Linked DNA regions of Homo sapiens. The protein of the gene in region 1 interacts with the protein of each later gene in a biochemical or structural test. Each region holds a gene or a part of one and is shown on either strand. Other genes may lie near its edges. The genes, in order: FOXP3, KAT8 and NLK.

What was found.
Region 2: the proteins of FOXP3 (region 1) and KAT8 form a complex in vitro, tested with the Homo sapiens proteins (one study listed by BioGRID).
Region 3: of the proteins of FOXP3 (region 1) and NLK, one has a biochemical effect on the other in vitro, tested with the Homo sapiens proteins (one study listed by BioGRID).

The regions. Positions count from the first base shown.
Region 1 is NC_000023.11:49,249,938-49,255,117, forward strand, and holds the end of FOXP3 (forkhead box protein P3), read right to left. Parts: intron 4,131-5,180; coding exon 3,980-4,130; intron 3,266-3,979; coding exon 3,189-3,265; intron 1,829-3,188; coding exon 1,727-1,828; intron 1,547-1,726; coding exon 1,397-1,546; 3' UTR 501-1,396; downstream 1-500. Other genes in the region: CCDC22 (coiled-coil domain-containing protein 22), read left to right, coding at 211-324. UniProt on the Homo sapiens protein: Transcriptional regulator which is crucial for the development and inhibitory function of regulatory T-cells (Treg).
Region 2 is NC_000016.10:31,118,921-31,130,458, forward strand, and holds part of KAT8 (histone acetyltransferase KAT8), read left to right. Parts: intron 1-1,265; coding exon 1,266-1,340; intron 1,341-1,418; coding exon 1,419-1,594; intron 1,595-8,114; coding exon 8,115-8,168; intron 8,169-8,268; coding exon 8,269-8,433; intron 8,434-9,129; coding exon 9,130-9,219; intron 9,220-11,096; coding exon 11,097-11,237; intron 11,238-11,346; coding exon 11,347-11,440; intron 11,441-11,535; coding exon 11,536-11,538.
Region 3 is NC_000017.11:28,043,016-28,054,553, reverse strand, and holds part of NLK (serine/threonine-protein kinase NLK), read right to left. Parts: coding exon 11,223-11,538; intron 11,217-11,222; exon of another isoform or gene 7,723-11,216; intron 6,638-7,722; exon of another isoform or gene 5,628-6,637; intron 1-5,627. UniProt on the Homo sapiens protein: Serine/threonine-protein kinase that regulates a number of transcription factors with key roles in cell fate determination. Positive effector of the non-canonical Wnt signaling pathway, acting downstream of WNT5A, MAP3K7/TAK1 and HIPK2.

The DNA.
Region 1 (5,180 bases):
GAGGCTTCAGCTTAAAGATGTAGGGGGAATCCTGCCACATGGCGAAGGATGCTTTGGGTAGAGGGAACACCACACGAGGCCTGGCCATGGGACAGAGCAGGCTGTTGGAGTTGGTGGGAGGGGCCCAGAGTGGCTGTGATGGGGGCTGGTGAGCAGGAGCTGGGAAAGGGGCTGTGTGTGCTGAGGGGGCATGTGTTCACATTGCCTCAGATCGAGACAGAGCTGGGCAAGAAGACCCTCAGCAACCTGGAGAAGATCCGGGAGGACTACCGAGCCCTCCGCCAGGAGAACGCTGGCCTCCTAGGCCGGGTCCGGGAGGCCTGAGGAGCCGCCGGCAGAGGTCTCTCCCCAGCCTCAGGCAGGGATTTGGGGTGCTGGAGGCAGTGGCCAAGCACATGCCCTAGCTACTTCCTCCGCTGTCCAGTTCCTCCTGCTGCGGCCTTGGACCCAGACCCCTGCCCACTGACCGCAACCCTTATATGGGGTGATAGTCCAGCATGTGGGGAGCTCGGCTGCAGTTTATTGGGGACGGTACTGTGGGTTGGGGGCCTTGGATCCCAAATAAATGAGTAGTTCCTCTGCAGTCTAAGCTGAGGCATGGATCAGGGCTCAGGGAATGGGAGTGAGGTGAGTGGCAGGGGAGACACGGGGTATTTTTGGCAAGGCAGTGTGTGTGGCTGTGTGTGTCTGCACGGGACTCAAGAGACCCACTGGGGGGCTGTGCGTGTGCATATGCGTGAGATACACAGGTGAATTCTAACAGGCCGTGTGTGTGAGCGAGCACGTGTTGGGACCTCAGATCCTGAGGGTACTGACGCTGCTTCTGTGTAGGCCTCTGGGCACACCCCTGTGTTGACAGTGCCCCTGTGGGCCCTGAGGCTGGCTGTGGGTGCGTGCCTTGGGGTGTGTGGGTTGTCAGGGCTGTGCTTGTGTGTGATTGTGTGATGATGCAGCTTTGAGGTTGTTTGAGTGTACTGAGGCAGGCTCTCTGTGTTTTGGGGTTTGTGTTGAGTGAGGGACAGGATTGTGACATTTTGTGTGTCTGTGTGACTTTTCCAGCCCTGAAGTAATCTGTGCGAGCAGCTGAGGCAGGCTCTGTGTGGCTGGTTGTGAAGGCTCTGTTTGGCTGCAGGGCTCGACTGGGGGGTGTGTCTGGGGCGGAGGTGGGGGCTGGGGCCAGGACCGGGGCCCCTCTGAGCAGCCTTGGGGCAAAGGATATGATGGGGGAGGGGGTGGCTGCCAGCGGGGGAACAGGGGCCCTGGCAGGCAAGACAGTGGAAACCTCACTTCTTGGTCCCTGTGGGCACATCCAGGGCCTATCATCCCTGCCCCCACCACCTCTGCCTCCCACCAGTTTGGCCCCTGTTCGTCCATCCTCCTTTCCTTGATCTTGAGGTCAGGGGCCAGGTGTAGGGTTGGAACACCTGCTGGGCCTCTGGCTCCGTTTCTTGCGGAACTCCAGCTCATCCACGGTCCACACAGCCCCCTTCTCGCTCTCCACCCGCACAAAGCACTTGTGCAGACTCAGGTTGTGGCGGATGGCGTTCTGTGGAAGGCCGGGGACAGGGAGCAGGTGGGCGTCAACCTCTGAGGCCAGCAGCCACCACCAACAACCCACATCCCGTTCCTCCCCAATGTGCCTATGAGCCCAGACCCAGGCCTGCCCACTTTGAGCTGCGATGGCACTTGAGGCCATCCCAGTCACCGCCACCTCAGAGGAGCTCACCTTCCAGGTGGCAGGATGGTTTCTGAAGAAGGCAAACATGCGTGTGAACCAGTGGTAGATCTCATTGAGTGTCCGCTGCTTCTCTGGAGCCTCCAGGATGGCCTGGAAGTTGGGGGGTGGGGTAAGGGGCACATTCCCCAAACTTGGGGTTTAGAGGGGCTATGACCTACCCCGAGCCATCTGACATGGGGGCGGAATTGTAGGGGCAGGTAATCAGGGACAGGACTAGATGTGGGGTGAAGCATGGGGTCAAAGATGGGGTTAGAAAAGGGGTGAAGTGTCGGGTTGGGCAGGGTTAGATGGGTGTGGGTATGGTTGTTCTGGGATTAGGTAAGGGATCAGGACTGAGGTTGGGAGTGGGGTCTTGTTCAGGGCTAGGGCTGAAGTGAGGTGAAAGGTCTGGGATGGAGTTGGAGTTGGGGTTCTCTGTGGAGGTGACATTTCAGGGTTGGGGAAGGTGAAGGGTCAGAAGTGGGGTCAAGGATTTGGAAGGGGTAAAGGGCCAGGCCAACTTAAGGGTCAGGGAAGGGGTGGGTTAAGAGTCAGGCTGGGGTGGACTCAGGTGGGGGGTCTAGGGGTGAGGGATGGGATGACTTGGCTTTAGGTCAGAAGCCAGAGATGGTTTGAATTATCGAGTATCTTACGTGTCAGGGACATGGTTAGGTGGTTAGGCTCAGGGCAAGGATGAGGTTAGTTGTGGGGTTCGGTGTGGAGTGAGGCTGAGGGTCAGGGAATTTGATCAGTTTGGATTCAGGAATGGGATTACAGAGTCAGCGATGATGATTGCAGTGAGGCTATCAGTCAGGATGGGGCTAGGTCAGGGTTTCAGTTCAGAGACAGTCGGGGAATATCTGGTATCATGTAGGGGTGAGGTTCAGGTTTGGGGTTAGGTGTGGCGCTAGGATGAAGGTTCTGAGAAGGCATTGGGGAGGCTGAGATGAAGGAGTTGGGATGGGGTGATGAAGTTAAGGATCAAATGGGTGTTACAAGGAAAGGTTGGGAATGGTGCCCAGTTGGGGGTGTATTGACATACTGGGGTACGTTGGGGCCAGGGAAGGAGATGGGGTTGGGTTGGCATAAAGGCTGGGGAAGGAGTTAGAGTAAGAGCTGGGGTACGTTTAGGGCAAGGTGCAGAGATGGGGTTAGCTTTAGGCTATTTTATGGGTCCAGGAGAGGGTTAGGTATGGGGCTGAGGTGGACATCTGGAAAGGGGTAGGTTTAGGGTCAGAATTTGGCATGCTCTGGCCTGGATGGTGGTTTAGGTTTGGATTTGCGGACAGGTTTGGGGTGAAGCCAGCATGAGGGGTCACATTTGAGGCACGGCTTGGGGATCCTTGGGGCTGGGGCTTGGGAATGGAGGAACCCACTCTGAGGGCACTCAGAGGGAGACAGGAGTTTGGGAGGCAGGTCCCCCACCCCATCTTTGTCTTCCTCCTCCTTGGGGCCGAGCTGCCCTGCTTACCCAGCGGATGAGCGTGGCGTAGGTGAAAGGGGGTCGCATGTTGTGGAACTTGAAGTAGTCCATGTTGTGGAGGAACTCTGTCAGAGGGTGGGGATGAATCAAGCCCCATGCAGGACCTCCTAGCTAGCTCCCTGTCCCCTCCCCCTACAAGGTGAGTCTACAGGCCTGAGATCTCACCGTCAACACCCGTGTCCACGGGCACAGGTACTGTTTGCTGAGCACCTGACATAAGTTGTATCATTTATTCTTTGCACCACTTCTGCCAAAATAGTTCTCCCCGAGGTTGAAAAGAAGCGGAGTAACTTGCACACCAAAGGATGCAAGAGGTTAAATGGCAGAGCCAGGATGACAGTCAAGGTCTCTGATCCCTGCTAAGCCCACAGGCCAGGCCTGGTGGAGAGCAGTGGATAGGTGAGCTCGGGCGAATCCACCCCGATTTTCCTTGGTCAGGGGAGGAAAGGAGGTGCTCCTGGAATTACTTAGCAGGGTCCCTCCCTTCTGATGGCCGAATATAGTAGCTGGAGTCCAGAGTGGGTGAGGCATGGCCCCAATCCCCAAGGGAGTCAGGGCTAGGGGCCCGACACTCGAGACCATATGGGGGGCTTTCAGGCCACGGACATCCCGAAAGGAAGCTTTTGTGAGCGGATGCATTTTCCCAAAGGCTGAGTGGCGGCAGCTGCAGTGGTGGTGGTGGTGGGAAGGGGCAGCATGGAGCTCCTTTGCACCCTCCACCCAGAGCCTGTCAGGATTAGGAGCTTGGGGGCACCGTGTAGTGCAAGGACCATTCTTACCTGGGAATGTGCTGTTTCCATGGCTACCCCACAGGTGCCTCCGGACAGCAAACAGGCTGTCAGGGGCCTCCCGGGGGCCAGACCAGGCTGGGACGACAGGGCCTTGGCTGCCAGCAGCTACGATGCAGCAGGAGCCCTTGTCGGATGATGCCTGGGTGAGGGGGAGAGGCTGGTGACCCAGAGGCTTAAACTTCCCACTTTTTACTTTCTATTTTATGTTTTTTATTTTTTTTGATACTGAGTCTTGCTCTGTCGCCCAGGCTGGAGTGCAGTGGTGCAATCTCGGCTCACTGCAACCCCCACCTCCCAGATTCAAGCAAGTCTTCTGCCTCAGCCTCCCGAGTAGCTGGGACTACAGGTGCCCGTCACTACGCCCAGCTAATTTTTGTATTTTTGGTAGAGATGGGGTTTCACCATGTTAGCCAGGCTGGTCTCGAACTCCTGACCTCATGTGATCCACCCGCTTCAGCCTCCCAAAGTGCTGGGATTACAGGCATGAGCCACTGCGCCTGGCTCCACTTTATTTTTAAATCAGTGTTTTTCAAAGCAAGGACGCCCTCTTCTAAATTCCAGTCTGAGGTGGAATCCCACAAAACAGCATGAGCCGTATTTATTAGAGCACAGGTGCGGATGTCGTATGTGGCCACTGATGCTGGGACCATGAACTGGGGTTGAATAGGGCTCTTTACCACCCAACTGTGACCTTGGGAAAGTCACCTAAACCCCCCTGGCCTCAATATTCCTCATCTGTACATTCGCATCATGAGAAATAAATTACCACCAGCAAAGCGCTCAGAAACAGTGCCTGGCCTCCAGGGCTGGCTTCATGGGCGTGTGACCTATGTGGTTATGTGGCACCCTGTGCTTTGTTTAATGCTCTGTGGTCGCCATCTTGAAATCTGAACAAGGGGCCCTGCAGGTTACATAGCTGGTCCTGCTGGCACACAGCCTGCATCTGGCAAGTCTGGCTATTTGCATTTGCTTTAACAACTCAGGATCACAGTGTTTGGGGATCTTAGAGTCAGAGGGTTTTTTTTTTTTTTTTTTCTTGAGACGGAGTCTTGATCTGTCGCCTAGGCTGGAGTGCAGTGGTATGATCTCAGCTCACTGCAAACTCCGCCTCCCAGGTTCAAGCAATTCTCTGCCTCAGCCTCCCAAGTAGTTGGGACTACAGACACCTGCCACCACGCCTGGCTAATTT
Region 2 (11,538 bases), on another chromosome or scaffold:
TCACCCAGGTGGGATTGCCGTGGCACGATGACAGCTCACTGAAGCCTAGACCTTCTAGGCTCAAGTGATCCTCCCACCTCACCCTCTCAGAGTGTTGGGATTACTGGCATGAGCCACTGTGCCCAGCTGTTATCCCTTTTCACAGATGAAGAGACTGAGGCTCAGAAAGATGGAATAACTTGCTCAGTTACACATAGCTAGGAAGTAGGGAGCTGGAATTTTGTGTATTTTTTTTTGTTTGTTTGTTTGAGATGGAATCGCTCTCTGTTGCCAGGCTGGAGTGCAGTGGCGCCATCTTGGCTCACTGCGATCTCTGCCTCCCGGATTCAAGCGATTCTCCTGCCTCAACCTCCTGAGTAGCTGGGACTACAGTTGTGCGCCACCACACCCAGCTAATTTTTGTATTTTTAGTAGAGACGAAGTTTCACCATGTTGGCCAGGATGGTTTTGACCTCTTAACCTCGTGATTCACCCACCTCGGCCTCCCAAAGTGCTGGGATTACAGGCGTGAGCCACGATGCCCAGCCCTGGAATTATACATTAATGTAGGTTATCTTAATCCAGAGCCAGCACTCATGATCCCTGAACAAATGAACAACTGCGGGTATGTGGTAAAATGAGCATTGAATTTAGAGTCAGACTTAAATTCAGTTAAGTATTAGCTCTTACCACTTTTCAAATCTGTGACCCTAGGTAAGCCTCAGTTTTGTTCTGTTTTTTGGGGTTCTTTTTTTTGAGACAGAGTCTTGCTCTTGTCACCCAGGCCACAGTGCAGTGGTACAATCTCGGCTCACTGCAACCTCTGCCTCCCGGGTTCAAGCAATTCTCCTGCCTCAGCCTTGCCTCCCAGGTTCAAGCAATTTTCCTGCCTCAGCCTCCCGAGTAGTTGGGATTACAGGTGTGTGCCACCATGCCTGGCTTTTTTTTTTTTCGTCTTTTTGGTACAGATGGGGTTTTGCCATGTTGACCAGGCTGGTCTCAAACTCCTGGCCTCAAGTGATCTGCCCATCTCGGCCTCCAGAAGTACTGGGATTACAGGTGTGAGCCACACACCCAGCCAGTTATTTTCTCATTCGTAAAATGAGAATAACAGCCTCAACCTGATCCACCTCACAGTTGTGGCAGTGATTGAGTAGAATGGCAGAGGTGGACCAGTGAGGTTAGCTGATGTGTGGCCCTGAACTCTGGAAACTGCTTCTCAGTGTGCAGGATTCCTTTTGTTCCAGCCTTACCTTCCTGATGACCCTAGCCTTTTTCCATCACAGATTCTGCTGAAGTGATCCAGTCTCGAGTGAACGACCAGGAGGGCCGAGAGGAATTCTATGTACACTACGTGGGCTGTGAGTGGCTTGGCACATCTGGGCGTGGGTGCAGGGAGTTGGCTGCCCTGGCAGCACTCTTATGGCCCATACTTACAGTTAACCGGCGGCTGGACGAGTGGGTAGACAAGAACCGGCTGGCGCTGACCAAGACAGTGAAGGATGCTGTACAGAAGAACTCAGAGAAGTACCTGAGCGAGCTCGCAGAGCAGCCTGAGCGCAAGATCACTCGCAACCAAAAGCGCAAGCATGATGAGATCAACCATGTGCAGAAGGTCCGGATCCCTTCCCATCCACGGGCCCAGGAGGCCCAGCTTCTCTGCCAGTTCCCTTGGGTCTCTCGGGCCCCAGTGCCAAAACCATAGCAAATCCCATTTCTTAAGCTCCTGTAGTGTGTCAGGGACTTTACCTACTTCCTCTTACTTACTTTTCATAGGTAAGAAAACAGACAGAGGGTAAGGGCTTCGCTGCAGTCTCACAGCAAGGAAATGGCACAGCTGGGACTAGAACTCAGGCCTCCGGCACTGGTAGCCTCTTTTGTCTCCTAGTAGCTGTGTCTTAGTAGAAAAAATGACTTGAAGTTCAGTGGGAAAGACGAGAATGTTATTCGGCAGTTGCTATAGCCAAGCACCCTGCCAAGTGCTGTATATGTATAAGCTCCTCAAATCCTTCCCAACAATTCAACACACAGGAATAGTTACTTTTTTGGTAGGTGAGGAAGCAGGCTGAGAGAGATTAAGTAACATGCCCAAGGTCACACAGCCAGTAAAACGGTGGGCTGGAATTAGAATAATAATGCCAAACACTTGTTAGCCGGTGAGCAGAAGTATTCAGCTAAATGGTTTTTGTGTGTGTGTGTGTGTGTGTGTGTGTGTGTTTTGTTTTTTGTTTTTTTTTTTGAGACGGAGTCTTGCTCTGTCGCCCAGGTTGGAGTACAGTGGAATGATCTCGGCTCACTGTAAACTCCGCCACCTGGGTTCAAGCAATTTTCCTGTCTCAGCCTCCCAAGTAGCTAGGACTACAGGTACCTGCCACCACGCCCGGATAATTTTTGTATTTTTAGTAGAGACGAGGTTTCGCCATATTGGTCAGGCTGGTCTCGAACTCCTGACCTCAGGTGATCTGCCCACCTCGGCCTCCCAAAGTGCTGGGATTACAGGCGTGAGCTACTGCGCCCGGCCTAAGCTAAGTGTTTTAATACATGACCTCACTGACATTTCACAGTAGGCCTGTGAAGTAAGCATGCAGAAGAGCTACAGATAAGTTTAGGGACCCAGACAGGAATTTGATCAACCAGCTAAATTGTGCTACCTCAGAGCCAGAGGCCTTAGCAATGATTTTGGTTTTTTTCTTAAGAGACGGGAGTCTTGGTGTGTTGCTCAGGCTGGACTTGAACTCCTGGGCTCAAATGTTCTTCCTGCCTTAGCCTTCTAAGTAGCTGGGACTACAGGAGTGCATCCCTGTACCTGCCTTGGTTTTTTCTTGTATTGATACTTAATAATTGTACATATTATTGTTATTTTTTTTTTTTGAGACAGCGTCTTACTCTATCGTCTAGGCTGAGTGCAGTGGCACAATCATGGCTCACTTCAGCCTCAACCTCCTGGGCTCAAGCAATCCTCCTGCCTCAGCCTCCTGAGTAGCTGGGACCATAGGCACGTGCCACCATGCCCAGCTAATTTTTTATTTTTTTGTAGAGACGGGATCTGCTATGTTGCCCACACTAGTCTCAAACTCCTGGTCTCAAGCGATCCTCCTGCCTTAGCCTCCCAAAGTGCTGGGATTACAGGTGTGAGCCACTGCGCCCGACCAAGTCTCAGTTTCTAAATTTATAAAAATCAGGAGTGCACACCAGAGCAAGATTTGTCAAAGTCTCCAGACACCCAGACATTTGTTACTTTCAGCTATTGCAGCTTCATCCTTCTGAGTACATGAGTTAGTGGGCAAGCCCAACATTTAAATTTCTTTAAATGGAAGAAAGAAAGTGGATAAGATAGAAAAATCAGGGTGTTGCACTTTATTAAGTGTAGGTATTGTTTTGAGAAGCTTTTATTTCACACCCAATAAAAGTGTGCAGGATTCCTCTTGTTCCAGCCTTACCTTCCCGATGATCCTAGCACATACTTGTGTGTATATACAGACATGTTACAGTGCCAAGTGTACTTCCTACTGTGGTGTGATTTAAAAAATTGAAATACCCTAAACTGGAAGAACTCCTCAAGGTCTAAACTGCCGAATCGAACTTCCTATTGTAATGGAAATGTTCTATAGCTGTACTATCTAGTACCGTAGCCACTAGCCACATGTAGCTGTTGAGCACTTGAAATGTGTCTAGTGTGACGAAGAATTAAGAATTTTAGCTGGGCGCGGTGGCTTACGCCTGTAATCCCAGCACTTTGGGAGGCCAAGGTGGGTGGATCACCAGGTCAGAAGATCGAGACCATCCCGGCTAACATGGTGAAACCCCATCTCTACTGAAAAATACAAAATAATTAGCCGGGCGTGGTGGCGTGCACCTGTAGTCCCAGCTACTCGGGAGGCTGAGGTAGGAGAATGGCGTGAACCCGGGAGGTGGAGCTTGTAGTGAGCCGAGATCCTGGGCTCACTCCAGCCTGGGTGACAGAGTGAGACTCCGTCTCAAAAAAAAAAAAATTTTTAAATTATGGGTGCAGTGGCTCACGCCTGTAATCCCAACACTTTGGGAGGCGGAGGTGGGTGGATCACTTAAGGTCAGGGGATTGAGACCAGCCTGGCCAACATGGCCAAAACCCCATCTCTACTAAAAATACAAAAATTAGCCGGGCGTGGTGGTGCACACCTGTAATCCCGGCTACTTAGGAGGCTGAGGCAGGAGAATCGCTTGAGCCCAGGAGATGGAGGTTGCAGTCAGCCAAGATCATGCCACTGCACTCCATCCAGCCTGGGTGTCCGATCAAGACTGTCTCAAAAAAAAATTAATTATCATTTTTTAAAAAAATTTTATTTTTATTTTTTCGAGACAGAGTCTCACTCTGTTAACCAGGCTGGAGTGCAGTGGTGCGATCTCAGCTCACTGCAACCTCCGCCTCCCAGATTCAAGTGAGTTTCCTGCCGCAGCCTCCCAAGTAGCTGGGACTACAGGCACGCACCATCATGCCTGGCTAATTTTTGTATTTTTAGTAGAGATAGGGTTTCACTATGTTTGGCCTCAAACTCCTGACCTCAACTGATCCGCCTGCCTCGGCCTCCCAAAGTGCTGGGATTACAGGTGTGAGCCACCGTGCCCAGCCAAAATTTTCATTTTTTGAGACAGAGTCTCACTCTGTCACCTAGGCGGGAGTACAGTGGCGAGCTCTTGGGTTACTGCAACCTCCGCCTTCCTGGCTTAAGCAATTTTTGTGCCTCAGCCTCCCAAGTATCTGAGATTACAGGCGTGTGCCACCACACCCAGCTATTTTTTATTTTTTATTTTTAGTAGAGATGGGGTTTCGCCATGTTGGCCAGACTGGTCTGGAACTCCTGGCCTCAAGTGGTCCTCCCACCTCGGCCTCTCAAAGTGCTGGGATTACAGGCGTGAGCCACCACGTTTAGCTGAGTATAATTTTAAATAGCCCTATGTGACAAGTGGCTACTTTATTGGACAGTGTAGATCTAAGATTAATTCCTCAACTGTTTTGCACTCAACAAAGACATACCTCTGAGTTGGCAACCAGCAGGGTGGATAACGGGCCAGTGGTGATAAAATCAAAGAATAGGTAATGAAACAATCATCCAGTTAACAATCAGCAAGGTTCTTCAGAGCCTAATTAATGTTTAATTCTAAATAAATTGCAACAATTAAGAAAAGTAGTGTTTTTGTAGTTCTTTATTGCATTTGCAGAAGAGTACTGTATTTTGTGAGAATTGGGAAATGTGTTTTAAAGAGATGTGTGAGGAGGAAAATCTTTCTTCCTCATCTTTACAGTGGTTAGGTTCAGAATTGGACAGACCAGGGGCCCATGCCCAACTCTGCTGAGTACCAGTTCTGTGACCTTGGGCAAGTGACCTCACCTCTTTGTGCCTCAGTTTTCTCTCATACAACAGGGACAATGAGCACTCTTATTTCAAAGGCTCATTGTGAGGAACAAAATGAAATAATGTCGGCTGGGTGCAGTGGCTCATGCCTGTAATCCCAGCACTCTGGGAAGCTGAGATGATTGGATCATTTGAGGTCAGGAGTTCGAGATCAGCCTGGCCAATATGGTGAAAGCCCGTCTCTACTAAAAATACAAAAAGAGGCCAGGCGCAGGCAGACCACGAGGTCAGGAGTTGGAGGCCAGCATGGCCAACATGGTGAAACCCTGTCTTTACTAAAGATACAAAAAATTAGCTGGGTGTGATGGTGCACACCTGTAATCCCAGCTACTTGGGAGGCTGGGGCAGGAGAATCGCTTGAACCCAGGAGGCGAGGTTGCAGTGACGTGAGATTTTGCCATTGCACTCCAGCCTGGGCGACAGGGCGAGGCTCCATTTCAAAAAAAAAAAAAAAAAAAAGGCTATGGCTCATGCCTGTAATCCCAGCACTTTGAGAGGCCAAGGTGGGTGGATCATCTGAAGGTCAGAAGTTCAAGACCAGCCTGGCCAACATGGTGAAACCCCATCTCTACCAAAAATACAAAAAATTAGCCGGGCTTGCTGGTGGGCGCCTGTAATCCCAGCTGCTTGGGACACTGAGGTGGGAAGATCGCTTGAACTCAGGAGGTGGAGGTTGTAGTGAGCCAAGATTGCACCATTGCTCCAGCCTGGGCAACAAGAGCAAAATTTCATCTCAAAAAACAAAATAAATTAGCTGGGAATGGTAGCAGGCACATGTAGTCTCAGCCACTTGGGAGGCTGACGTAGGAGAATCACTTAAGCCCAGAAGGCAGAGGTTGTGGTGAGCTGAGATCTCCCCACTGCACTCCAGCCTGGGCGACAGAGTGAGAGTCTATCTCAGAAGAAAAAAAAAAAAACATGTCTGTGCCGTGCTTGCCACTTGGAATAAATGGCAGCTCACTAGTCCCCGAGGGTAAGGGACCTCACCTTGCCCTGCCTGTTTACTACTCTGTAAAATTGAAATAACGCAGCTGGGTGCAGTGGCTCACGCCTGTAATCTCAGCACTTTGGGAGTGCGAGGCTGGTTGATCACCTGAGGTCAGGAGTTTGAGAACAGCCTGGCCAACATGGCGAAACTCCATTGCTACTAAACATACAAAAATTACCTGGATGTGGCGGCATGTGCCTGTAGTCCCAGCTACTTGGGAGGCTGAGGCAGGAGAATTGCTTGAACCTGGGAGGCGGAGGTTGCAGTGAGCCGAGATGGTGCCACTGTACTCCAGCCTGAGCAACAGAGTGAGACTCCGTCTCAAAAAAAAAAAAAAAAAAAAAAGAAATAACACTCTATGTAAGGGTTACTGAAAGGATTAAATGAGGCCATATAAACATATAGGCACAGTGCTTTGTGGAGGGGGTTCTGGGTAAAGCACTGGCTCCTTCCTCCCTTCTCAGCTACAGGGCAGGGCCTTGTCTGCCCTGGTGTAGGTCATGGACCGTCTTGGGTCCCCCTTCCATTGTCAGGCTGTACTGGGTTCCTCCCACAGGGTCTGGCCTAGGAGCAGGATGTGTTGTGAGTGTGGTGTGACTCTTAGTCTCTGCTTTCTAAGGACTTGAAAAATAGAGGAACCCAGGTGGGCATACTTGGACAGTGTTGCCCTGTTGACCACTTCTCGCTGAACTTGGGAAGGAGGGAATGTTTTCTGGATGGGAAGAATCCAGTCAGGCCTCCTGGAGGGGGTGGTAAGAATCTCAAGCCTTGAAGGATGGGAAAGAGCACAATAACAACAGTGACAAAGGATAGATCACAAAGCATCATGGACTCACCTGACTCATGCTCCGTGCCAGGCTGAGGAAGTGTTTTCTGCTGGCAGTGAGAGAAGGAAGGGCATTCTCCAGGTAGAAGGAGCTGTTTGTGCAGAAGCATGAAGGCCGCTAAAAGGGGGCTGCTGATAGCAATGAGGAGGCTGGGGCTGGAGGCAGGGAGTCTGAGGCGGCCTAGTAAATTGTCCAGACCTGAGATGGGGCCATGACTACCTGGAGCAGGACAGAGAGGAGAATTCCAGAGAGGGCCCAATTCCAGAGATGTCAGAAGTAGACTCGACATCCACTGTATTAGGACTTGGCCAGGCCGAGGGAGAGAGAGTAGTCTGAGGCAAGCCTAGTTATGGGTCTTGGACACTGGGACCAAGGGTGATGTTCCCAGTAAAATGAGCAACCCAGGAGGAGGCGCAGGTTTGCAGGGAGGAGTGATGAGGTCCTTTCTGCACATCTTGAGTCCGCTGTCCCTGTGGGAGGGACCTCTGGGGCAGTCGCATGGGCAGGCAGGGTCTGGTCCTCAGGAAAGGGGTCCAGGAACATCGGGGAGGTAGTAACAGTTCTTACGCTGGGCCTGGAAGGCAAATCTGTTATTTCATTTGAGTCTCACAACTTTGGCAGAGCTGGATTGCCCCCCATCGTGCAGCTGAAGCCCCATCCTGATCCTAACCCTGTTCATCTGGCAAAAGGTCCAAACTTGGACATCAGGGATGTCTGGGATATCGGGGGTGGGGCGGGTGGGTGTGAGAGGAGTCTGGACCAGCCAGCTTCAGAACCAAGTCAGATAGGTTAGCTATTGGTGTGGTTATTATTGCCATCCAGGAATGAGGTCTGGTAGACGGCAGGGAAGCCTTGTGGGTCCTGACGGGAGGGACAGCCTGGTCACCACTTCTGTTCACCTCTGCCCACTTTTCTTTCCTGGCCCAGACTTATGCAGAGATGGACCCCACCACAGCAGCCTTGGAGAAGGAGCATGAGGCGGTAAGTGGGGCTGGGAAGCTGCCTGCAGGTCCCCCGTCTCCCCTTGCCGAGGAGCCCCTGCTGAGCCGTGCACTGTGCCTCACTCCCACCCTGCCTGCAGATCACCAAGGTGAAGTATGTGGACAAGATCCACATCGGGAACTACGAAATTGATGCCTGGTATTTCTCACCATTCCCCGAAGACTATGGGAAACAGCCCAAGCTCTGGCTCTGCGAGTACTGCCTCAAGTACATGAAATATGAGAAGAGCTACCGCTTCCACTTGGTGAGGCTGGGCCGGCCGGGCCGAGCTGGGCAGGGGCCCGGTGAGAGGCAGAGGCAGGCATGGAGACTGAGGGCGGCTGCGCCGGCAGCTCCAGGGAGGAGACAGGCCCAAAGGAGCGAGTACAGGGAAGAGCTGCTGGGGGTCAGGAGGCCTGGATTCCAGGCCTGGCTTTGCTGTTGCTGGCAGGGTGACCTTGCCAACTTCAGACCTCAGCTCCTCTTCTCTGGAATGGGGACAGTAACTCACCCCCTTCAGGTCTTTTGCCAAGGCCAGCTCCATCCCAGGAAGCACACATAGCCCCTGGCAGTGGGACCTTAAGTGTGGATGAAATTGGGGGCTGTCAGGAAGGGGCGCTCTCATCACTGACACAGTGGGCTGCTTCCCGAAGTGTGGAATCTGAAGCGAATAGGTGTGGTTTAGGGAAGCCATTGTCATGGACGGGTCCCTCCAGAGCCAGGCCCACAGAGACTCAAAACCCCACCGTGCTGTGTGATGTTTGGATCTCTGTGCCTGGGCCTTGGTCTGTAAAAGCAGGATCACTTTCCTAAGGCTGCTGGGAGGATTACTCGATGTAGGTGAAGTGTTGAGGGGGGAAACAGAGAGGCAGAGACTTGCTCCAAAGCATGCAGTGGTGGGTTGGGTGCCTCCTAGCAGAGAACATATGGGCAGCGAACCTGTTCTCTTGTCCCCGACCAGGGTCAGTGCCAGTGGCGGCAGCCCCCCGGGAAAGAGATCTACCGCAAGAGCAACATCTCCGTGTACGAAGTTGATGGCAAAGACCATAAGGTGAGTGGGTGGCCAGGGGTTGGGAGAGGCCGGGGAGGCCCTGGGCACCTCCCAGATGATCCTCATCACCACCAAAGGGGAGGGGGCAGCCTTAGCTGAGCCTCTATGGGCAGAATGCCTCTGAGGGGCCGGGCACTGCAGCTCACACCTGTAATCCTAGCACTTTTGGAGGCTGAGGTGGGCAGATTGCCTGAGCTCAGGAGTTTGAGAGCAGCCTGGGTAACATGACGAAACTCCTCGACTAAAAATACAAAAAATTAGCTGGCGTGGTGGTGCGCACCTGTAATCCCAGCTACTCGGGAGGCTGAGGCACAAGAATTGCTTGAACCTGGGAGGCAGAGGTTGCAGTGAGCTGAGATTGTGCCACTGTACTCCAGCCTGGTCGTCAGATTGAGAATCTGTCTCAAAAAAAAAAAAGAAGGCCTCTGAGGGCCTCCTAGCCTGGCACTAGGCCTGTAGTTGGTGCATAGGAAACACAGGGCCTTGTGGTGGCCCCAAGACTCTTCTGCTGGTGGGGTTAGGTTCAAACTTGGGTTGTTCTGGAACCCAGAGGAGATTTTCTTGCCTGAGGCTGCTTTTAGAAGTGCTCTCTCCTTCCGTTGGAAAGAAAGGTGTTTGTTTTTGCCTGGGAGGGGACTGCTTTGTGTGAAATTTCCTCCTGAGAGAGCTCTGTGGCTTTCAAGGTTTGAGTTCCTTGTTCCTGGCCCCGAATGACTTCAGCAGGGCAGGTTGGGGCCTTTGGGACCTGCCTAGCTGTTGTAGAGAACTTGGCCTTTGCCTTATCAGTCTGGGAGGGTCTGGCCAAGTGTACTGGTTTCCCGCAGATGGGCCATACAGCACAGGACAGAGAGGGCAGGCTTCAGGGTGGCTCATGTTGCCTTGTCACTTCCTCACTGACCACAGACAAGTTACTTAACATGGTTTGTTCCTGTTTCCTTGTCCATAAGACGGGAGTCATAATATTTAATATTTACCTAGTTGTGTTGTTAGTGGAATAAATGAGACAGCAAATGTCAAGTGTTTAGTGCAGTGCTTAGCACTAGTATGTGCTTAATAAACACGGGCCTTGTTATTATCGGTGACCTCTTGGGGCTTGATTAGCCTTGGACTCGGAGAATACGCAGGCTGAGCCCAGCCCTTGCCCCTGCTCTGCCTTCCTGAGCATGGCTGTGTGGAATAGCAGAAGGGCCCCCGCTGGAGATGTGGGGGTGCTTTCCAACTGCGCTCTGCCAGCTTTGAGGCTCTGGGCAAGCACTTCCACTCTGGGAGCTTCAGCTTCCTCCTGAGTAAGATGGGCCTGGCAGTGCTGGGCTCGCACAGCTGCCGGGTTGGATGAGAGAGTGGCTGTGGTGTCATAAACCAGGGAGCCCCTTAGTGTGTGCCGTGAAGCCAAACTCGGTCCCATTGTCCCCCTCCTGGAGTGCAGCCAAGTGGACAGACAGGGCTCGAGGTTCCTCCATTCAGCAGACGTTTACCAGGCACCCAGCTTCATACTTAGACTCGTGCTAGGCGCTGGGGACACAGCCATGAACAGGACGGTCTAAATTCCTGCCTCGGAGCCTCAGTTTCACGAGCTGAAACAGAGTTAATGTCTGTGAAGACTGAAGCAGATCCTGCATGGAAGGCACCCAGCTCGTATTTGGCACTCAGAAGGGGTGGCCGGGCTTCATCCAGCTCCACTGGCACCTCCGAAGTGCTGTTGCTCTCTCATTTCCAGTTCCCTGTTCGTCAGAGGCTGACCGAAGACTCCTTCCAGTGTGAAATCCTTCTGGCCTGGCGAGGCGCCCACTTCGCGTGGGCTGGTGCCGGCCGCTGGAACCAGCTGGGTGGGGCCTGTGCCTGCCCCCTGAGCCTGTCTCCCCCCTCCTCAACCCTAGATTTACTGTCAGAACCTGTGTCTGCTGGCCAAGCTTTTCCTGGACCATAAGACACTGTACTTTGACGTGGAGCCGTTCGTCTTTTACATCCTGACTGAGGTGGACCGGCAGGGGGCCCACATTGTTGGCTACTTCTCCAAGGTGCTGGGTCTGGAAACTCGGGGTGGGGAGGGTGGGGAGGGCGAAGGTGGGCATGAACAGAGAGTGGGGCAGAGCCTCCCCAGCGGCCCTGAGCACCTGCCTCCTGCAGGAGAAGGAGTCCCCGGATGGAAACAATGTGGCCTGCATCCTGACCTTGCCCCCCTACCAACGCCGCGGCTACGGGAAGTTCCTCATCGCTTTCAGTGAGTGGTTCCTGGCCTGTCTGGGAGGGGGAGACCTGTGGGGCAGGGGTGCCAGGGCAGGCTGGATCCTAAGTTCCTCTTTCTACTGCTGCCAGGTT
Region 3 (11,538 bases), on another chromosome or scaffold:
GAGAAATTAAGTAACATTAATTATTAAGTTTAATATTGAAAGTCTTAATAAAGAAAGGTGCTTTGTTGGTCGACATTATTTGTCCTCATAAATCTTCTGCAAAGAATCCCTATAACCAACTGTTGCACCTTTCAAAAATTTCAATTTTATTAAAATGTTTTAAACAGTGTTATAATTAATTAGCTTGTGTTTTTAAAAGAATGCCTGTCAATATTTACTTTGAACGCTGGCTATGGTATACACCCAGTTAACTTCAGGATAACCCCAATTACTGTAACCTGCAGAACCTGGGAAAATGAACACAGAGGAAGCCAATCAATTAAACATGGTTGAAGATGCTCACATAATTCTCTGAGGCAATTCAAACCCAAACCAAGCCCCTTCTTCTGCACAATAACCACATTACTTGCCAATTTTTATAGCTTCTGGATTACTTTTAATAAAGCTCAAATTTCCTCCGCATCTGTATTACTAAATTTCCAGCTCTATTGAAGTAAATATAGAAATCAAGTTTCCTATTTTAAAAAATTAGAAAAGAGAGGGAAGTGGAGAAGAAAGTGGGGAAAAACCCTCTGCACCAGGCTGCATGTTAATTTAGATGTGCAATGAGACAATCACCTGATAATTGTACCCTTTGGGTACTTTTGTACTGGTAAGATAATACAGTGAAATAAAGTCACCTGGCTTATTTCAATTAACTTACACAATTTGCAAATCTGCAACTCTCTGCCATGGTACATTAAGAAAATTAGCATGTAAGAAAAATCACCTGCTTATGTAAATTGACGGATCATTTTTATCCATGCAGACAGGAAGAAAAGCTGCAATCTGGGTCAAATGACTAATTTTATCTATTTGTTCAAATGTCTCTTTTCACCTTTTTTCTGTAGCTCAGAGCAAGAATTTTAGGTCAAAGAATGGATAAACAAAAAGTTTCTGTGTTGTCCATTCCCCTGTAAGAAGTCTGCTGCCTGACACTACTGAGCTCTATACTACTTAAATTGAAAACAAGACTGAGAACCTTATCCAGATAACAAAACCACAATACGGAGAGGATAAAAAGAGAAATCAATAGGAGATATCTGCTCTAACTGGGAAGGAAAGCAAACATGGCAACGATCAGGTACCAAATTTACCTTCTGCTACTTTAGGCAAACAAAGCTTCAGAAAAGAAAAGGAAAAATGCCTCCAAATAACTCAGGACAGACAGGACTTCTCTATAGAGATCATTATTCCAGTTTGTTCCATAAATATACCCACTCAAGTTCTTCTGAGTCTGACACAAGTCAGACAAATGCAGTATCTTGGTCATTAATGACTGCATTCCTGGCATTTACTGCTGGTATTCATCCCTCCCATTTAAAACTGACTCCATCTCCAGGTCCAGAAGTGGATCTGATTGCTCCAAAAGTAATCTTACCTTCATTGACAGTGACTGGTTCAGAAATGAGTATGTAATCCAACAAAAGCCAAAGAGAGGCCAGGTGCGGTGGCTCAGGCCTGTAATCCCAGCACTTTGGGAGGTCAAGGTGGGCAAACTGCTTGAGCCCAGGAGTTTGAGACTAGCCTGGGCAACAAAGTGAGACCCCATCTCCACAAAAAAATAAAAAAAATAGCCAGGTGTGGTGACAGAGCAAGACTGTCTCAAAAAAAAAAAAAAAAAAACACCAGAGATCAATATGCTGGTGCTGGTCAGTAGCCATGTGTGGCTACAGAACACTTAAAATGTGGTTAGACCAAACTGAGACATATTCTAAGCATGAAGATACATAGTGATTTTGCAGACTCAGTATGAAAAAAAAGTAATATAGATCATTAATAATTTTTATAGTGAATACATGTTGAAATGACAATATTTTGGATATAGAGTTAAAATACATTACTAAAATTAATGTCACCTGTTTCTTTTCAGTTTTTTACTGTGGCTACTAGAAAATTTAAGATTGCATACTTTCACTATGTATTTACTGGATAGCACTGCTGGTTTGCTGAGGGTGTCTGCAAAAATGCTCCCTTCCTCTTGGACAAGAGCTTTAGGAAGTCACTCTCCCTCTTTGGGCACTGTAAGCCCTAAACTACTACAGCCTGAAAGCTGTGTCAAAGCTCATTTTCTGGGAGGCCCACATGCAAACTAGTAACTCTCTTATCCAAATTCAGAATTTAAAAGAGACTCCTGGAAAGAAATTTGTTTTAAAGAAACTTGCAAATTAATGTAAGCACTGGCTCCCAAATCATCTTACCTGATTACTCACACACAAAAGATGACAAAATACTGAACATTAAATTTTATTTAAAAATTTAAAAATCACTCAAAATATTGTAAGAAAACTATTGTAAGACTTATAAGAAACTAAGCAAGTTTTTAAAGTCTAAAACACTAAAAAGGTAAATATTATCAGGAAAATAGTAGTATCAAATGGACATGTAGAAGAAATTGCTCATTTGCAAACAGGCCTGCTCTTCTCCACAGCTGAACTACATGTATAATCCTTACCAATAACTCAGTAATAGAAGAAAACAAGTCTCTTGATGAAAAAAAAATGAACATTTAAAATCTAATCCCAAATTAGAAAACTCTATAAAAGTCACCACTCTGGAACAGGGTGACATTTATCTCATTCCTCCTTTAAACAATTTTAGAAGCTATTCAACACTGTAGTCCTGAAGAGAGAAAGTTGTCTTGTGGTCACCAGCAAACTCCAACAAATATTAATATCATTTTATAATAGAATCTTAGGAAACACAGGATTTTATAAATGAGAAAACCAAGGCTCAGAAAGTTTAAATAACTTTACCAAGGTCACAGGGTTGTTGGCAGCAAGGCTAGGACCAGAACCTTGTCTCCTAACAAGTTTAGTTTAGTAATCTATTACCCCATTGTTTAAAAAAAAAAAAAAAGCCGGGCGCAGTGGCTCACAACTGTAATCCCAGCACTTTGGGAGGCCGAGGCAGGCCGATCACGAGGTCAAGAGATCGAGACCATCCTGGCCAACATGGTGAAACCCCGTCTCTACTAAAAATACAAAAATTAGGCGGGTGTGGTGCCACGTGCCTGTAATCCCAGCTACTCGGGAGGCTGAGGCAGGAGAATCCCTTGAACCTGGGAGGTGGAGGCTGCATGAGCCAAGATCATGCCACTGCACTCCAGCCTGGTGACAGCGGAAGACTCTGTCTCAAAAAAAAAAAAAAATCCTTCCCAAGGAAATGGCACCTTGAACATCAAGTTCTCTGGTTTATTAAACTAAAAACAAACAAACAAACAAACAAACAAACAAATGAGATTTGGAAGAATTGTATTAATAATTTTAAAAAATTGTAAAAAGTAATACTGAATACTTAAGACATTCTTTAGAATCAATCAAACACAATCACTCTCTCAAATGCCATCAATGATCTATTTACTATCAGGCTAAATACAATGGCCTTTTGGCCTTTTCTCCATCTTAATTTTCTGACTTTTTTTTTTTTTTTTTTGAGACAGGTTCTGACTCTGTCGCCCGGGCTGGAGTGCAGTGGTGTGATATCAGCTCACTGCAACCTCAGACTCCTGAGTAGCTGGGACTACAGGTGCGTGCCACCACACCAGGCTAATTTTTTTTTTCTGTACTTTTAGTGGAGATGAGATTTCACTATGTTGTCCAGGCTGGTCTCGAACTCTTGGGCTGAAGTGATATGCCCACCTCAGCTACCCAAAGTGCTGGGTTTACAGGTGTGAACCACCATGGCCGGCCTTCTTTGACTTTTTATCAGCACCAAAGATCACTCCCATTTTCCTAACAATCTTCTGCCATACTTAGATTGTCAATCATTGTGAACACATTTTCCTAACTGCCCTTTAGTTCTGCTTCCAGTAGCTTCTTCCACCTACAACTGAGAACATTCCCTAAGACTCAGACAGATCTCAGTTCTCTCTACTCTTCTATTTTACATATCCAAAAAAAAAAATTAAATCTGACGAAGTCTCTCTTACTTAAAAACTTTCAGTAGTTGCCATTCGCAGTTTTAACCTTTTCTCATCATTGCCCGCCTACGGAGCCTTTTTAGGCTATTTTCCTAATCATCCCCTCGTAAAATCTTAATACCACAGATATGCTATTTAACTGTTTATGTGCTATATGTCCACATATGCTTTATTAATAAAAAGCTGTTTTTAGTGCCTCAAGCATGACATTCCAACCTCTTCATGATTGAGCTCTAGCTTACACTTCCTACCACCCACTGCACTGCACATTCAGCATCTCCAGCCCTGTAGTCTCCTGCATATAGGCCCTTCCACCTAGACTGCCCTTCCCCATTGGTTGACTCTCATTCTTAAAACTCATTGAAGAATTACCTATTTTAGGAAGCATCCTGACCTTCCATAGAAATCCCTCCTCTACACGCCCTTAATGTCCAGGGACTATCTCTATTGCTGCATTTATGGCAATGAATTATAATAATCCATTTACAAATCTATTTCACCCAGTAGGTCATAATCACCTTTAATCCTTATCTCCAGCACAGTGCCTGGCAAATAGTAACATACAATAATTGAATATTGTAAGAACAAGTGAAAATAATATATATATTTTTTGAGACACAGTTTCACTCTTGTTGTCCAGGCTGGAGTGAAACGGCACGATCTTGGCTCACTGCAACCTCTGCCTCCTGCGTTCAAGTGATTATCCTGCCTCAGCCTCCCAAGTAGCTGGGATTATAGGCATGTGCCACCACACCTAGCTAATTTTGCATTTTTAGTAGAGACGGGATTTCACCATGTTGGTCAGGAGGGTCTTGAACTCCTGACCTCAGGTGAACCGCTCCTCGGCCTCCCAAAGTGCTGGGATTACAGGCGTGAGACACCATGCCTGGCCTGAAAATAATATATTCTTAAGTTTTTATTTAATGGTTTCAAATTTAGTTTCACCTCTCCACCAAGGCTGAGGACACCCTGAGAGTAGGCATGTTTCATTGTTCATATTGTTTACTTGACTGTCAACTCCTCCAAAGCAATATGGTGACTTAAACATCCCTATACCTCAGTACTAAGCACAATACAGACAACAGCAGCAGCAGCTTAATAGAGGTTCGCAAAATTATTTATAAGACTAAATATCCCCATTTGGTGCTTGCAAAAGTGCTGGTCCACAGCGAAGTGACAATAAAAATATATAGACTAGTGAGTTCCAAAGGTGTTAAAAACTTTCACTGCCTCATAGTAGATATGACTCAATTAGCCAAATTATTTCAAAACTGGGTTTAGGTAAAGAGCACCAATCATTATGAGTGGCAGACATCCCCATATATACTCCCTCTACTCACACCATTACAACTAAGAGTTAAAGTTCAATCTCAGTAGAGTTCACTTAGAAGTCATCTTTCCATAATGCCAGAGTACCAGTTTTTTCTGTTTCTGCACTAGGTACCTTACAACTACTGACTATGTCTATCATGACTTGTTATGTGCTCACTGACAGTGTTACAACTGTTGCCTCAGACACTCTGTTACTTCCAAGCAATATCAGGATCACACTGACAAGCTATTTTAGTTATTGTTGACCTGTATTAGATGGCCCAATCAACAAATAATTCACTGGAGTAGCACAGAGGCACAGGGACTCAGAATTAAAACCCAAAGAGACGCATAATTAAAGAGCTTCTAACAGCTTCTGTCCATTTATTGGTTGGATGACAAATGAAAAAGTTTCTTTGGCCTTGACAATCTCCATCAAAGAAACCAAATAAGCATGTTAAGGAAACATACAGTATATGAACAGTTAATTCTTGTATTGCTTGGACATCAATAAATCTAATAAAAACGACCAAGAATAGTCACTCAGTTTTACAATATAGAAGGCAGAGAAAACTCTGACACTCCAAGTTGTGAAGACAATGAAACATTCCAGTACTCCATTAGAGGACTTTTTGTATCTACAGCTGCCTGTGCTTTGAAGGTAAAAACCCAGAATTTAAATTCAAACATATTCAGTTAATGCACTTATGCATTTTACAAATTTTTGTTCTGGTATAGCATATGAAAGGGAGCTATATCTGCCCCCATTTCTCTTTTATGACACATGCCCAGTGGTACTGATGGCTAAAAAGATGGTATTTAATGTTGAGGGATATTGTTCTAACTTGCTTGAAAGGGCAATGTTTCTGAAATGCCTTAAAAAAAAAAACTGTCTTTTTTTCTAAATTAATATTGGACAGTATAACATGAAATTTCTCCCCAAGAATAAAACAAGTTTATTTTTTGTGCTGTGGTTTTTTGAACATAATTTGGATAATCTTTTCAGGAGTCTAAGTACAAAATGACTTGCAACGTTATAGGCTATGGAGTTTCAACCACCAAGAAGTGGGTGCAGAATCATCAGATTGTTACTTTTATTCTCTACTCTTTATCTACTTTATGATCATGAACCTGTAATTTCCAAAAGTAAGTTCGTTTGTAGTTAAAATTAACAATACAGATTTCCACATTTCTAGTTTCATACGGATGCTTTGTTATGTCTAGAAGAGCAACCGTTTCCTTTTTATGGTGCAGGCTCTGCTTCTTCAAAGCTCTTTTCACAAAGCAGAGCCCCCAAAGAATCCAGCTGTGGCTGTTAATCTCGGCTGATAGTGGAGAAACTTCTCAGTACTACAGATTCTCAACCTGTAAAACACAGTTAATAACAAAATACCCTTTAGTATACTACTCTTTCTGATGCAACTTACTCCAGGATTTTCCCCAAACATATCCCAAAAGCATTCTGCATTTTTCCAAATTAGTTTGTTATGTGGAGTAAGAGGACCAGACAAAACATAAGAAAAAAAGATGCCTCTCATGTTCACAAGATGAGCAAGCTAGACAATCTCTACCATGCACAAGGGCTTATACTGAGTAATTTTTTTGTTAAATCACTATATTTCTCCCACCTCACTGGGATCTTTAGCAATTCACACTTTTTCATCCAAACATAAGCAAAGTGAATCTCTACTTCGACAATAAGGATGTCTTTCATTTGTTACATTCTGAAAAGAAAAAATTAATTTCCCAGTATATAAATCCATAATACTTTCTAAAACAGTGCAGATGATCTGACTAAAACACCTACAAAGTCCATACAAATGTGTATTATTTTTATTTGTTTTTAATTAGTTGACAGGACAGCACAGAGTATTTTCCCCTTGGCTTTAAATTCAACCATTTTCAAATCTCCCTGACATACAGTACAACTGAGGGGACACGCTACGTTATTTAGAGTCATGCCTCCAAAAATAGTCTGCATGCTGATTTCACCTGATAAATCTGACAATCTATGAAGACACTTCCATGCACATTAACACAACAGCTTGATTTTTCTACCAACAATAACTACAATAAAAACAACTAACATTTATTGATGCTTACTGTGTGCTAGACAGTGTAATCATTGGTTTACAAGAATTACCTCACTTAATCTTCACATCAATCCTGAGATAAGTACTATTATTATCCCCATTTTATAGATGAGGAACAGAGAAGTCAAATAATTTATCGAGATCACAGAGCTAGTAACTATCACTACAGTTTTGAAAGACAGATAAAAGTAACCTGCTGAAGTTATTAGAATAATAAAATTCAAAGACCTCCAACATTACTTGGAGTACACAAAGGCAACAGAGCAAGTGAATCCCAGGATTTTTGATCTTTTAATTAATCAGGCAAGTCACAAACCAAAATGCTAATTTTATAAAAAAGTCTTTTCCCAGACTCACTTTTACCAAGGTGGCAATATGTGCCATTAATTCCATCTCTGATATGTTAAGTTGCCAATGTCAAAAACGGTCTAGGCACAGCGATCCTCAAACCACTCTCATGCGGTCAACTTCCTCCATCTCTCAAAATTATGAGCCCCTGAAACTCTTTGTCCCAAAGTTGTTACATCTTTAACCACAGCATTTTCCTCTGGCAAATGTGAACTGCAGACAAAAAGGTAGATTTATATTACTCACCAAATGACTGAAGTTACTATTTGTGGGTTGCTTTGTGTTTTGTTTTTGCATTATGAAAATGTCCATGTGGGTGTTTGGAGGCTGTAATGTCTCAAAAAGAAGGTCAAATTGTATATGATATCTTGATAACCCATAAACAACATTCTATCAGTGGCAACAAATGTTATCTCAGGTTATCCCACAATCACATTACCAGGTAAACTGGAACTCTTACTTTGAGATAAAATACAGCAGACAGTTGTTAATGAAACCTTAATTGAACTGTCACAGCACCATCCTTACCAGCAAGCTAATGAGTAATTCACTACTTTTACACAACTGTCCAATACTGATAAGTTATTCCACTAGTTAAATTCAACAGAAAGATAAATCAAGTCAGCTAGACTAAATTGTTCAGTGATAAATCTGGTAAAATGCTGCATCACTTCTACAAATATCTCTCCTTGTCTACATGGAGAAACAACAATCTCTCTCAAAATTGCATGCCACTTTTTTAGCCATCAGTTAGTACCCCTGGGTGTATGTCCCCAAGGAAATGTGGGCAAATACAGTTTCTTGTCATATGCTATTCCAGAAGAATACTTGCAAAGTGCATTAAATGAATATATGTTTGAATTAAGTGAATCTTATAATACCCCGGTAGTTAGTTACATGGCGGTTTCAATCAAAGGATGCATCACTGGGAGAACATTTTTATGTTCCATTATAATCATTTTAGAAAAAAGTTGTTTCCAATTCATAAGGTGCTTCCTAAATTAAAAAGATACATTCTGTTTCAGTTAAAAAGTAAAAAACCTCACTAATATCTTTACCTTGGGTTTCAGAATATTAGTGCAATTCCCGGTAGTTTGGTTTTCAAATCTCTAAACAGTCTTACTTAGGTCATACAACAGTTAAATTTCAAATATAATAAGGAATTCAGACAGCAAGTCATTGACATGTAAATATAAAAATAGAAAAGCATTTGCATACTAAAACATACACCTGGAACTCTTTCCTTTTTCATACCAAATTGTATTTCACCTGTAACAGCTGATGAAAACACTCAATGCAGTTAACTAGAAAAACTTGGTTAAAAAAACAAAGACCCGAATCACGTGATAACACAGGAGGACGGCCATCCACAAGCCAAGCAGAGGGGCCTCAAAAGAAACCAAACCTGTACCTTGATATTGGATTTCTAGCCTCCAGAACTGTGAGAAATAATTTTCTGTTGTTTAAGCCAAAACAAAGAAGGACCTGACTAGATCAATTAACCAAGCAGCAAAGATGCCAAAGCACTGTGCTAGGCGCTGAGGAGAAAAGGATTACTACAGTAGACAATCCTTACCCTCAAGGGGCTTACGAATGTAGTCAGTGACACAAGACAAACCTGAAGTAAGATGGTGCACAGAGGTGTACTTTAAGTACATGAGACAAACTCCATAGGTGGTAGAGCAGTCAATCAATTAAAAACCTCTAGAATGGCTTCAAACCAAATATATGTGGGCTTTCAGATATCAAAGATTCATAGTACCCACTAGCAGAACGTTTGCTGTGTGAGATGTTTCAGCACTCCAGTTCTTTATTGCCCCCTTCCTTAAAAAAATAAATAAATAAAATAAAAACTGCTACAAGTCACATCACTTTTTGATAGAAATGTAAGTGAAAAATGCCTTTTGAATATATTCAAGAATGCTGCAACCCATTTCCCTTTCAGTATCCCTAGTTTTTAGCATTGTATGTAAGGCACTAAAAAAGAAAGTAAGCATCCAGATCTAAGAAGATCCAAACAAGTGCTAAAAGTTATTAGTAAATCAATGACAAAATTTAAACCAAGGAACAACCGTTTTCCTGTCTGTTCCATCCCCCAACCAAAGCTTGGAAATCCTCAAGAGTTAGGCAAGGATAAGTTCACAGTTAAATCTCTGAGATAGTCTGTGGAAGGGAAGAGAGGAAGGCAGGAACAGGCAGGTCCCTGAGCAGAATGACCAAGGCACCATTACCAGCTATACTCTTTTCCACCTTGAATCCCACACACCTTGAAGAAAGGACCACGCTGCAGCAGAAACTTCCTTGGGGACTAGCTGAGAAAACACTGGACTCTACTAGTTTTTTTAAAAAATGGATGAGATCACTTAGCAGCCTAGATTATCAAATCTGAAATATAAATAAGATGGCCAGTTAAAATGCATAAACAATGCACCCATCAATTTTAGCCTCAAAAACAATGACGAAAGGAGATATTTACCGGGCTAGTTCCAAAGAGTTCATTTTCCTGTGGTAATGGGCGCTTTTCTCGGGAGTAACAATTTTTGAATGCACTGAAAATATCAATTCATCTATCCAAAGTGGAATCATTAGTCCTTGGGAGAAAACCCAGTTCATTCTAGTTTTGATAGGAACAAACATATTTTATTATAAACTACTAATCTTTCTAAGGTTAGACCAAATAGACCAAAATGTTATATTTAAGAAGCCCTTAGGCTTTTACAAATATCCTAGCACTAGCAAAGGTAGGGTCATTTGTTAAAAAAGTATTATTTCCTACTACAGCAACTGACCAACAGATAACAGCAACTTAAGAGGCACTAAATGACACTAAAACATTACACTGAATGTGGGCCACTGCATAGCTAGTCTACTAACCTCATTTGTGGTACTCATGTGTGATGCTATATTTAATGCATTCTTATCAAAAGGCTACAGCTACATACTTCTCAACTGTAGCTTTATGGTTTAAAATAAACCACTCAAGCAATGATCTTAACTGGTTCAACTATGAATCCTATCTTTCTTCTGGAGATCAAGATCACAAAATAAGTGAAAAGACAGAAAGGACAGGAAAGTAGTTATGCAAAGTATATCCTAATGACAAGAGTATTATAAAGGAATTCAGTCTGGATCAGGTGCTAACACTTAATGCCACAGGGCCACTGAATCAAACACACGAGATGACCAAGGTCTTCGTAGGAATTAGTATTGCATACATTCATCTACTGATCCTGTGTTCAGTGGCTTGCTTAGGTTCTAATAGAAAAGTTTGGTAGACAGCACACTTATGTGTGTTGCTCATGAGAAGGCGCTCCACCAAAACTTGCCATGAGCCTAGACAGCCAATGCATTAGGCCTCTTTACCACATAAGTGAGGGTGGCTTCCTACAGTTGGGTTGAGAAGCTTGCTGCACCTTGGTCAACATGGAGACAACCATTAGAGATGGACTCATCCAATGACAACCAACAGAAGAAACCATGAGAGGTTGTGTTTTTCTTTGGATACTCACCAGACAACACCAAAGGCTCCATATCCAATAGGTCTATCCGGCTCAATATCCAGCTGCTGCTGTGGATGATGCGAGTGCTGATGATGGTGCGCCTTAACTGTAGCAGCTGCGGCAGCCTGTACCTGAGCTGGGGCTGCTGCAGCTGGTCCAGGAGCCTGCCCCGGTGCCGGTGATGGGAAATATGGCTGTTGTTGCCCAGGGTTTAACATGGCTGCAGCTGCAGCCGCTGCTGCGGCTGCCGCAGCTGCCGAAGAGGTGTGCTGCTGTACAGGGTGTACAGCGGCAGCCGACCCCGGATGAAGATGGTGTTGAGGGT